Regions from separate parts of the Homo sapiens genome. Here region 1 is linked to region 2. Evidence: fine-mapped expression QTL. A gene starts in region 2. The other region holds a variant in brackets. All regions are shown on one strand. Distances are between the middles of the regions.

The links. PIP is the estimated chance that this variant, and not a neighbour inherited with it, causes the effect. A credible set is the group of variants that fine-mapping cannot tell apart.
Region 1: its variant is the best candidate, but not a certain one, in a credible set for the expression of ANO2 in thyroid (GTEx, PIP 0.81).

What each region holds. Positions count from the first base shown.
Region 1 is chr12:6,118,678-6,122,677 of GRCh38, reverse strand. It overlaps VWF (von Willebrand factor), which reads left to right. Exons shown (of 52, transcript NM_000552.5): 3 at 1,340-1,504. Among named protein-coding and RNA genes, the nearest start is that of VWF, 4.0 kb to the left of the region's middle. RefSeq lists a silencer at 3,481-3,775. The variant G/A (reference allele first, on the strand shown) is at 2,273.
Region 2 is chr12:5,943,002-5,947,521 of GRCh38, reverse strand. ANO2 (anoctamin 2) reads left to right here and starts at 2,263. Exons shown (of 25, transcript NM_001364791.2): 1 at 2,263-2,326. The coding sequence starts at 2,305.

The DNA.
Region 1 (4,000 bases), 180 kb before region 2:
TCATACTGCTGCCCTTCCCTTGCTAAGATTCTGGGTCTGCAAATGGCGGGAGGGGACTTTTGACCTTGGGCGCTTTCCACTTAGATCTCTCAGGTCAGCAGCATCCAGCTACTGCCCACAGGTGAGTCTGGGAAAAAAAATACACATTTGTCACACTCTCTGCATCTTCCTACTAGGTGGGTCTTTTGCCGGGGAACCCAGAACACTTAGAGATTTACTGCTGTATTTCCCCACCTGCCGACACACACACACCCATAGTCAGTGAAGGAGTTAGCCTGTGACGCCGGAGGAGTTCACACTTCAGAGAGTCTATGTGTCAGGCACACAGTCTGATCTGTTTAAAATTTAACATGCCCAAGACATGCTAGTAGATTTATGTACAAAGATGCTCACTGCAATCTATCTATAATATTAAAACATGGAAAAATGCTAGAAACCTAACAATAGAGGGCTATACTATAGACATTCAGATGCAAAATATAATGCAGCCACTAAAAACCGCATATTGGAAGTATATACACTAGCACGACAAATTGTTTACAATCTATTGAGAAATAAACAGAGGTTATAGGTAGTTTGCACAAGTTGGTCACCAATTTATAAAAAACCCACAGCTGTATATATGCTATACAACAAAATGGAAAGATGAACATTGAAATGTTAACTCTAATCATCGCTGAATGTTGGGTTACAGATGGTTTTAACTTCTTTGTCTTTTCTTTTCTTTTTCTTTTTCTTTTTTTTTTCGAGACAGAGTCTCACTCTGTCGCCCAGTCTAGAGTGCAGTGGTATGATGTTGGCTCCCTGCAACCTCTGCCTCCTGGGCTCAAGTGATTCTCCTGCCTCAGCCTCACCAGTAGCTGGGATTACAGGCGCCCACCACTACACCCGGCTAGTTTTTGTATTTTTAGTAGAGACAGGGTTTCGCCATGTTGGGCAGGCTGGTCTTGAATTCCTGACCTCAGGTGATCTGCCCACCTCGGCCTCCCAAAGTGCTGGGATTATAGGCGTGAGCCACTGTGCCCGGCCAGCTTCTTTGTTTTCTTCTGTATGCCCCAAATTTTTAATAATGGACATGATGACATTTTAAATCAGTAAGTAAATGTCATTGAAACTAATGGATTTCCTGAAAAACTGTTCCTTAGTTATTGCTGTGAGTCTGGGGTCATATCTGGGAGCTGAAAGCAACAGCTTTAGTCTCATTTAGGATGGAAAATACCTCCCCACAGCCCAGTTTCTATCAGAGGCAGTCTAATTTCTACGAGGCCAGAGAGGTTTGAGCTGATGGTCCCAGTTGTGCCCTGAGATCACCAGCCCAACCTGTGGCCTCTCCCTCCAGGGACCCTTTGTGCAGAAGGAACTCGCGGCAGGTCATCCACGGCCCGATGCAGCCTTTTCGGAAGTGACTTCGTCAACACCTTTGATGGGAGCATGTACAGCTTTGCGGGATACTGCAGTTACCTCCTGGCAGGGGGCTGCCAGAAACGCTCCTTCTCGATTATTGGTGAGTTCTGGGCACTGCAGGGAGGACTTCAGAGGGAGGGCTGGCTGAGCTTAGCCCTGGTGTGGGGGAGGATTCCTGCTCTCAGGACAGTGTCTGAGCGGAAAGGTCACTGCTGAGAACAAGGAGAGGAACAGCCTTTCTGTGACACGTAGCCCCTCTTGGCTTTCCCCGGGTCTCTCCCCACGGGAGCCGGGTGGGATGGATGAAGAGAGTCTTCATCTTTGGTAGTCCACTGTGTCCGTTGCTCTGGGGCCCGGCGATGCCCTGGGAACTCCACAGCATCAAGGCAAATGATGAACTAGAGAAGGTGCTTTGGAACGTGTAAAACTCCTTGCCAGAGAGAAGACTCGTTGTTGTTTTCTTGGTGGCCTGTGGATCAGAACATCAGCTTATGCTGAGGACTTCCTGTATTCCTGCAGAAGGGCTGGTACTGTCCCTGCCATGTCCCTGCATCCCCACAACAGCCCTGGGATGTAGCTGTAGTCATCCCAGTTTTACCAATGGAGAACCAAGGCTCATGAAGGTTGCATGATCCTTCCAAGGCCTGACAGACAATAAAAGGTGGAGCTGAGGCCGGGCACGGTGGCTCATGCCTGTAATCCCAGTACTTTGGGAGGCCAAGGTGGGTGGATCACCTGAGGTCAAGAGTTTGAGACCAGCCTGGCCAACATGGTGAAACCCCATCTCTACTAAAAATACAAAAATTAGCCGGGTGTGGTGGTGTGTGTCTATAATCCCAGCTACTTGGGAGGCTGAGGCAGGAGAATC[G/A]CTTGAACCTGGTTGCAATAAGCTGAGATACACTCCAGCCTGGGCAACAGAGCGAGACTCCATCTCAAAAAAAAAAACAACCCACAAAAAACAAAAAAACTGGACTAAGCAGGCCAAGGACAGAGCCCAAGGCCAAGGCTTAATCTAGAAGAGGGCTCAGAAGTGCCCCACTCAAGTTTGGTCAAGGAGGGAGTCTTTGGCAACACCTGGACACTTACCTGAGATCTGGGCTGTAGGGCTCCTGGGGTCATTGCTCCATCAGTCAGCGGGGACTGACACAGGGTCCTCCATGTGCCCAGCACTGGGCTAGGCTCTGTCTAGCACCTGGCTATAGCTATGAGCTCCCCGCATTCCTGCTTTCTCCCTGAGGCCATCTTTGCTACCTGCCCTGACTCTGCTGGGAAACTTATCACATATGACTTCTGGGCACTGCCATCCTTCCCACTCCTCCATGAGCTCCTCAGGGACAAGGAGCATGTCTCACTCATCTGTGTTTCCTGGTGCTTAGCTCACCGAGTTCTCTGTTGTGCTGAAGATTATGTATTTATTTATTTATTTTTGAGACGGAGTCTTGCTCTGTTGCCCAGGCTGGAGTGCAGTGAGTGGTGCGATCTTGGCTCACTGCAACCTCCGCCTCCTGGGTTCAAGCAATTCTCCTGCCTCAGCCTCCCAAGTAGCTGGGCTTACAGGTGCCACCATGCTTGGCTAATTTTTGTATTTTTAGTAGAGACAGGGTTTCACCATATTGGCCAGGCTGGTCTCGAACTCCTGACCTCAGGTGATCCACCCGCCTCAGCCTCCCAAAGTGCTGGGATTACAGGCATGAGCCACCATGCCTGGTCTGAAGATGTTTACAGAGTGTGTGTGAGGAGCCCTAGGGAAGGAGCTTTGATTGGCCAGAGAAGACAGGGGAGGGTGCTGCATGTGGTGGGGACAGCATGAGAAGTGGGGAGGCTGGAAGGGGCATGTACTCCTGACATGGAGCCCTGGGGAGGTCAGTGTGGCTGGAGCAGCAGTTGCCAAACTCCAGGCTGCATCAGGACCACCCGGAGAGCTGTGACAAACAGATCACTGGGCCCTGCCCCTGGAGTTCTGACTCAGTAGAAATGGAAGGGGGCCTGAAAATTTCCCAACTGCTGCTGCTGCTCTTAGGGTGGGTAACCAGACTTTGAGGGTGCGGGACTGGAGGAGAGTAGGCTGGGAGGCTGTACCATCGGGTGAAGCTGCAGTGTAGGGTCTTGGAGTCTGATGGGGACTTTGAGTCGATTCCGCAGGCTGTGAGGAACTAGTATAGGGTCTTGTGCAGCAGGGAAGTGGTGAGAGGAAACTGGTTCTTTGCCAAGATGGTCCTGAAAAGGAGAGAGGTAGGAGGCGGAATGGCCTTGGCCGTGGTAACCAGGGAGGTAGTGAAAAGGCCAGAGGCGCCCCAGGGCATGACAAATAAGAAAGTCATCCTCAACACTGACCGTGAGGGTCCCAACTTGCTTCAGAGGCTGCAGCTGGGGAGGAGCTGGAAGAGCAGCTGGAGAGAACCCCTGAACCCCTGCCCCTGGGAAGCTGAAGGCTCATGCCCTCCCTACCTTGGTGACCCCAGATTTTATTTAAAGTGGATTTTCCCATTTTATAAATCACGGCAGAGCTGATACAGACCACTACCTGTGATGGCTCTGGGGTTGTCAGTGGGAATGGAGGGTTAGAAGTGACCGGAAGAGGCCGGGTGCACGGGTG
Region 2 (4,520 bases):
CCACCCCATCAGAGCCACACCATCCCTGTTGCTTACACTCCTCCCGTGCTGACATGGGGACCAGTGACTGCTGCACCCTTAAGTTCCCACCACTTCTGTTACTGCCTGAGCTTAACCTTAAGAGAAGCCACATTACAGGAAAATGGCATAGATTATGCTGAGTAGGCTTGGTGGGGAGTTTAGTGGGGCAGAAGGAAGGAAGAATGGATAGAAGTTTTATGTAACTACTCAGTAATTCAAAGGTTACTGTCTCTCCATCCATCACCCCACTCCCAACTTTGGGTAGCCTCTAAGGTCTCTCTTGGTAGGAAACCAGATCCAGGGACAGGGAATTAACTGTCACTCTTCTGACTGATCGCCTAACACTCTAGCTGGGGACAAGGTGTTATTGGAGGCATCAGCTCTGGAGAAATTCAGCAGGAAGGCTAGGCTACCACTGCAGCATAGGTGGTTGATTTTCCAACTGCCTGTGTCTTGCTAGCTTGAACTTCTCATGTTTACTGATATGTCATTTTACCGTCAAGAAAAAAGCTGAATCGGAAAACTGCATGTTTTGATTATTTTAAAAAAACCCAAAACGATGGAAGAGAGCTGGGTAAAAAGGATGCAAGAAGAGAAACTTGTGGGGCTAGTGTGTGCGGAGCGGTGTCTCGGCAGTCTTCTTTTATTTACAGGTATTCCAAAGGCACTATCTGTACCTGGTTTCAGGGACCCTCTTTTTTACTCACCCTCAGACCAGGCAAGACAGAGTGCCCCAAAGTGGATGTTTTAAGGGGAGTCTCAAGGAAGGAGTATATAGACACTAAGAAACTGCTGGAGGGAAAGAAGAAAGGGAATGAATGAAAGAGCAATGGTGACCATTTTTCAATCGTTTGGGGATTGAAAAGACATGATAACGGTCCCTGGAAGTAGACAGGGAGAAAGGGGTTGTTAGGGACAGAAAGGAGCAGAATAGCAGAGTGTTATGCCACAGACTCCAGGGCAGGCTGCCTGCTTTGGAATCCTAGGATCCTCTTAGAGGCAAGTTACTTGCCATTTAACACTGCAGTTCTCTCATCTGTAAAATGGGCACACTGCAGTGATTGCCTCATATACTTATTGTTAGGATTAAAATAACTACCATAGGGAAAGCACTGAGAAGGGTGTTGGGTGGAGAGGAAGTCCTGTAGAAGCATTAGCTGGTAGTACTTGCAGTGGATGGAATAAAGGCCTGGGTTGGGACATCACATCTTGTGGTTTTCCTTCTGCTCTGCCCTCGACTGTGGTGTCACTTACTCCCCTTTGCTTCCCCAGGCTCCTTCTCTATAAAGTGGGATCTATCATGACCAGCCTACCTTATCAATATAGGAGAGAAAATCTTCATGCCTGAAGGTCAGTGATCACAAATGGCATACTTGACCTTAACATAGTACTTCTTCATTTTGGGGGTCCATGGTATTAATGAACTTGTTTTACTTCTGTGCATCTTGGAGTTGCAGATTCCATCGTGCAGAAGGGCCCTTTGGAGGTCTTCCCTCCCATCCCCCTGCCCAGGTCCGTGAACTGTCCCGGGGAGATGGCACTCCTCTTCCCCTCTGGGGATGGAGCTTCCATCATCTACTCCCTCAACCTTCCTTAACCCTCCTAGCGTCTCATGGGAGAGCTCTTGTAAAATGGACCCCTCCTCCTGCCTCTGGCAGCCCCTCCTGTTTTGCGGTCCCTTGTGCACTTACTACCTGCCTCTTCTCCCTTTTGTTCTGCTTAACCTAGGGGAAGGTGAGGACAGCTGGTCTCCACCTAGTATGGAGACAGGTGTGGGAGATCCGCCGTCCAGGGGCTCGCCCCCACTCCCGCCCCAGGGCTAACTCTTGGGCAGTGGATGACCCTTTGGGGCGGCGGGAAGAAGGTTTTGCTGGCAGGATTGGAAACTAATCAGCCAGACAGTTCATGAGATAATCCGACTGAATTTTTACACTCGAAGCAGGTTGTGGGGCGTTGCCCCGGCTCTGGGGGAGCAGGGAGCGTTTACTGTCTCGCCCCTCAGCCCCACGGACCCGAGTGTGTCCTGGACTCAACCCGGCCGCGGGACCGCGCTCCATTCTCGACGCCCCGCTCCCAGCACCCGGGCGCCCAGGGCGCAGCGGGGAGAGCTGGGCTGTGGCTGCGCGGCGCCGGCGGCCGGGAGGGATGGGGGAGGAGGAGGCGGCAGCCGGCGAGGGGCGGGCGCGCCGGGACGGAGCTGAGCCGCGATGGAATTAGCCCCGCGGCGGCATAAGCCTGCCCAGAAGCGCGCGGCCGCGGGCCGGCGGGGTCTGCGTCCACATCATGGCGACTCCCGGGCCGCGCGGTGAGTTTTCCGGCTGGACCTGGTCCTGGTCTCCTACAGGTGGTAGGAGGGAGGGAGTGAAGGAGGCGGCATCCGAACTCCCACCCTTCGGGATTGGGGACCCCCAAGGGAGCCTGGGCAGGGTGGTGCGGGAAGTTGACCCCGTTTTTCCAGGGTAGGGACTCTGAGGGACGTCTATGTAATTTCCGAGACGTTTTTTGTTTTTTGTTTTGTTTTGTTTTTTTTTTAACTCAAGGAGAGGGAAGGTAGGACAACAGAGGTTTGGGCGGCCGCTTCTCTGTGATTGGTTACCAATCCCCACCTCTGTGATGTTGCCTCTCCTTGTTACAAGTCCTGGGGACGTTTAGCCTACAGCATCTGAAGGTAAGTAAACAATAAGTAAACAACCAGCCGGACTGGGTTTAACTCAGCAACGGTCCGCTGAGGACAGAGCAAATTTGACTTTGGCATCCCTGGAGTGGCCTCTCAGTTTCAGAAGTTTTTTCCAGTGTCTTACCCAAAACCGCATTCAGGAAGGGTTCCAAGATCAGGCATTTACACCCCAGGCTGCAGGGAAACACAGCTATACCTTCCCGAGGGACTTTTCTTAGAAGAAAAGCAAATTGAGGTGGAGTATGGAGAAGAAAGACGTTATTTTATTGCTTTTGGGCAGGACTGACTTTGCCTGGGACAGGGACTTTGTCGGCTGTTGTGTTTCTGGTAATTCTTGAGACAGGCATGAAGAGGGAGGTGCCCGCTCCTTTGGCATGAACAATGAGCTGAGTGCACTGGGAGGTGGTGTCAGTCACAGTCCTGATACTTTGTGAGCAGATGTGGAGAAATACCACCCCGGGACCATGTGGAACCTCGTCTGGGACAGAAGGTCCCACTGAGCAAGGTCGGGTCTCAGCCCAAAGGCAGGTGGCAGGTGGAGGGAGGATCTTAGACAAGGTGAAGGTGCTTCCAGAGGACTGTGGTCCTCTTGGCCCTCCACCTGCCGAGCCTTTGTCCTTGGAACCTGGCATCAGAGCCCCTGCCCAGTCTCTCTGTCACCCTGGCTCAGCTGCTGGGCATCCAGGGCTCATTTGCTCCTCTCAGTGTGTCTTAACGTGCACCCGTCATTTCCGGAGCCAAGCACCTGATTCGATCCTTTCCAGCAACTGCTTCTGCTGTCTGAGTTGCCTCTATGTGGGTACCAGAGCCACTCTGCTGGTTGACTGTAGAGACTGTGTGAGGGGTAAGGGTGGGATCCAAACACACACCTCAAGTTCTAGTCCAGTTTCCAGGTGTGCCATCTCTTCATCTTCCATTGTGGGGCAAGGCTGCAGGGTGAGAGGCATTTGGGCCTACTGGGGAGTGTGTCTATAATTTTCTGTAACAAAGACCTAATTTTCTGGAAAGCTACCCATTCTGTGGGCTGAGAGAAGCCCATCCCACCCTATGTATGACGTTGCTAGAGCACATGCATAGCAGGTATTTGGCTGCTAGGGACGGTGTTATTGTCTCTAGTACACGGTATAATCCATCTGTATTGTTTAAAAATTGTTTTAAAAATGTCAGTAGTTTTTAGGGTACGGGGTTTTGCTTTTGGTTACATGGGTAAGTTCTTTGGTGGTGAATTCTGAGATTTTAGTGCCTCCTCACCCGAGCAGTGTACATTGTACCCAGTATGTAATCTTTTATCCCTTATCCCTCCTCCCACCCTTACCCGCTGAGTCCCCAAAGTCCATGATATCATTCTTATGTCTTTGCATCCTCATAGCATAACTCCCACTTATGAATGAGAACATATGATATTTAGTTACCCATTCCTGAGTTACTTCACTTACAATAATGGCCTCTAGCTCCATCCAATTTGCTGCAAAAGACTTATTTTGTTTCTTTTCATGGCCGAGTAGTATTACACACACACACACACACACACACACACACACACACAAACACACACTCAAACACAGACATCCCACATTTTCTTTATTCACTTTTTAGTTAATGGGCATTTAAGTTGGTTCCCTATCTTTGCAATTGTGAATTGAGCTGCTATAAACATACATGTGCATGTGTCTTTTTTATATAATGACTTCATTTTCTTTAGGTAGATGCCCAGTAGTGGGATTGCTGGATCTAATGGTGTTCTACTTTTAGTTCTTTAAAGACTCTCCATACTGTTTTTCTATAGTGGTTGTACTAGTTTACATTCTCAGCAGCAGTGTTA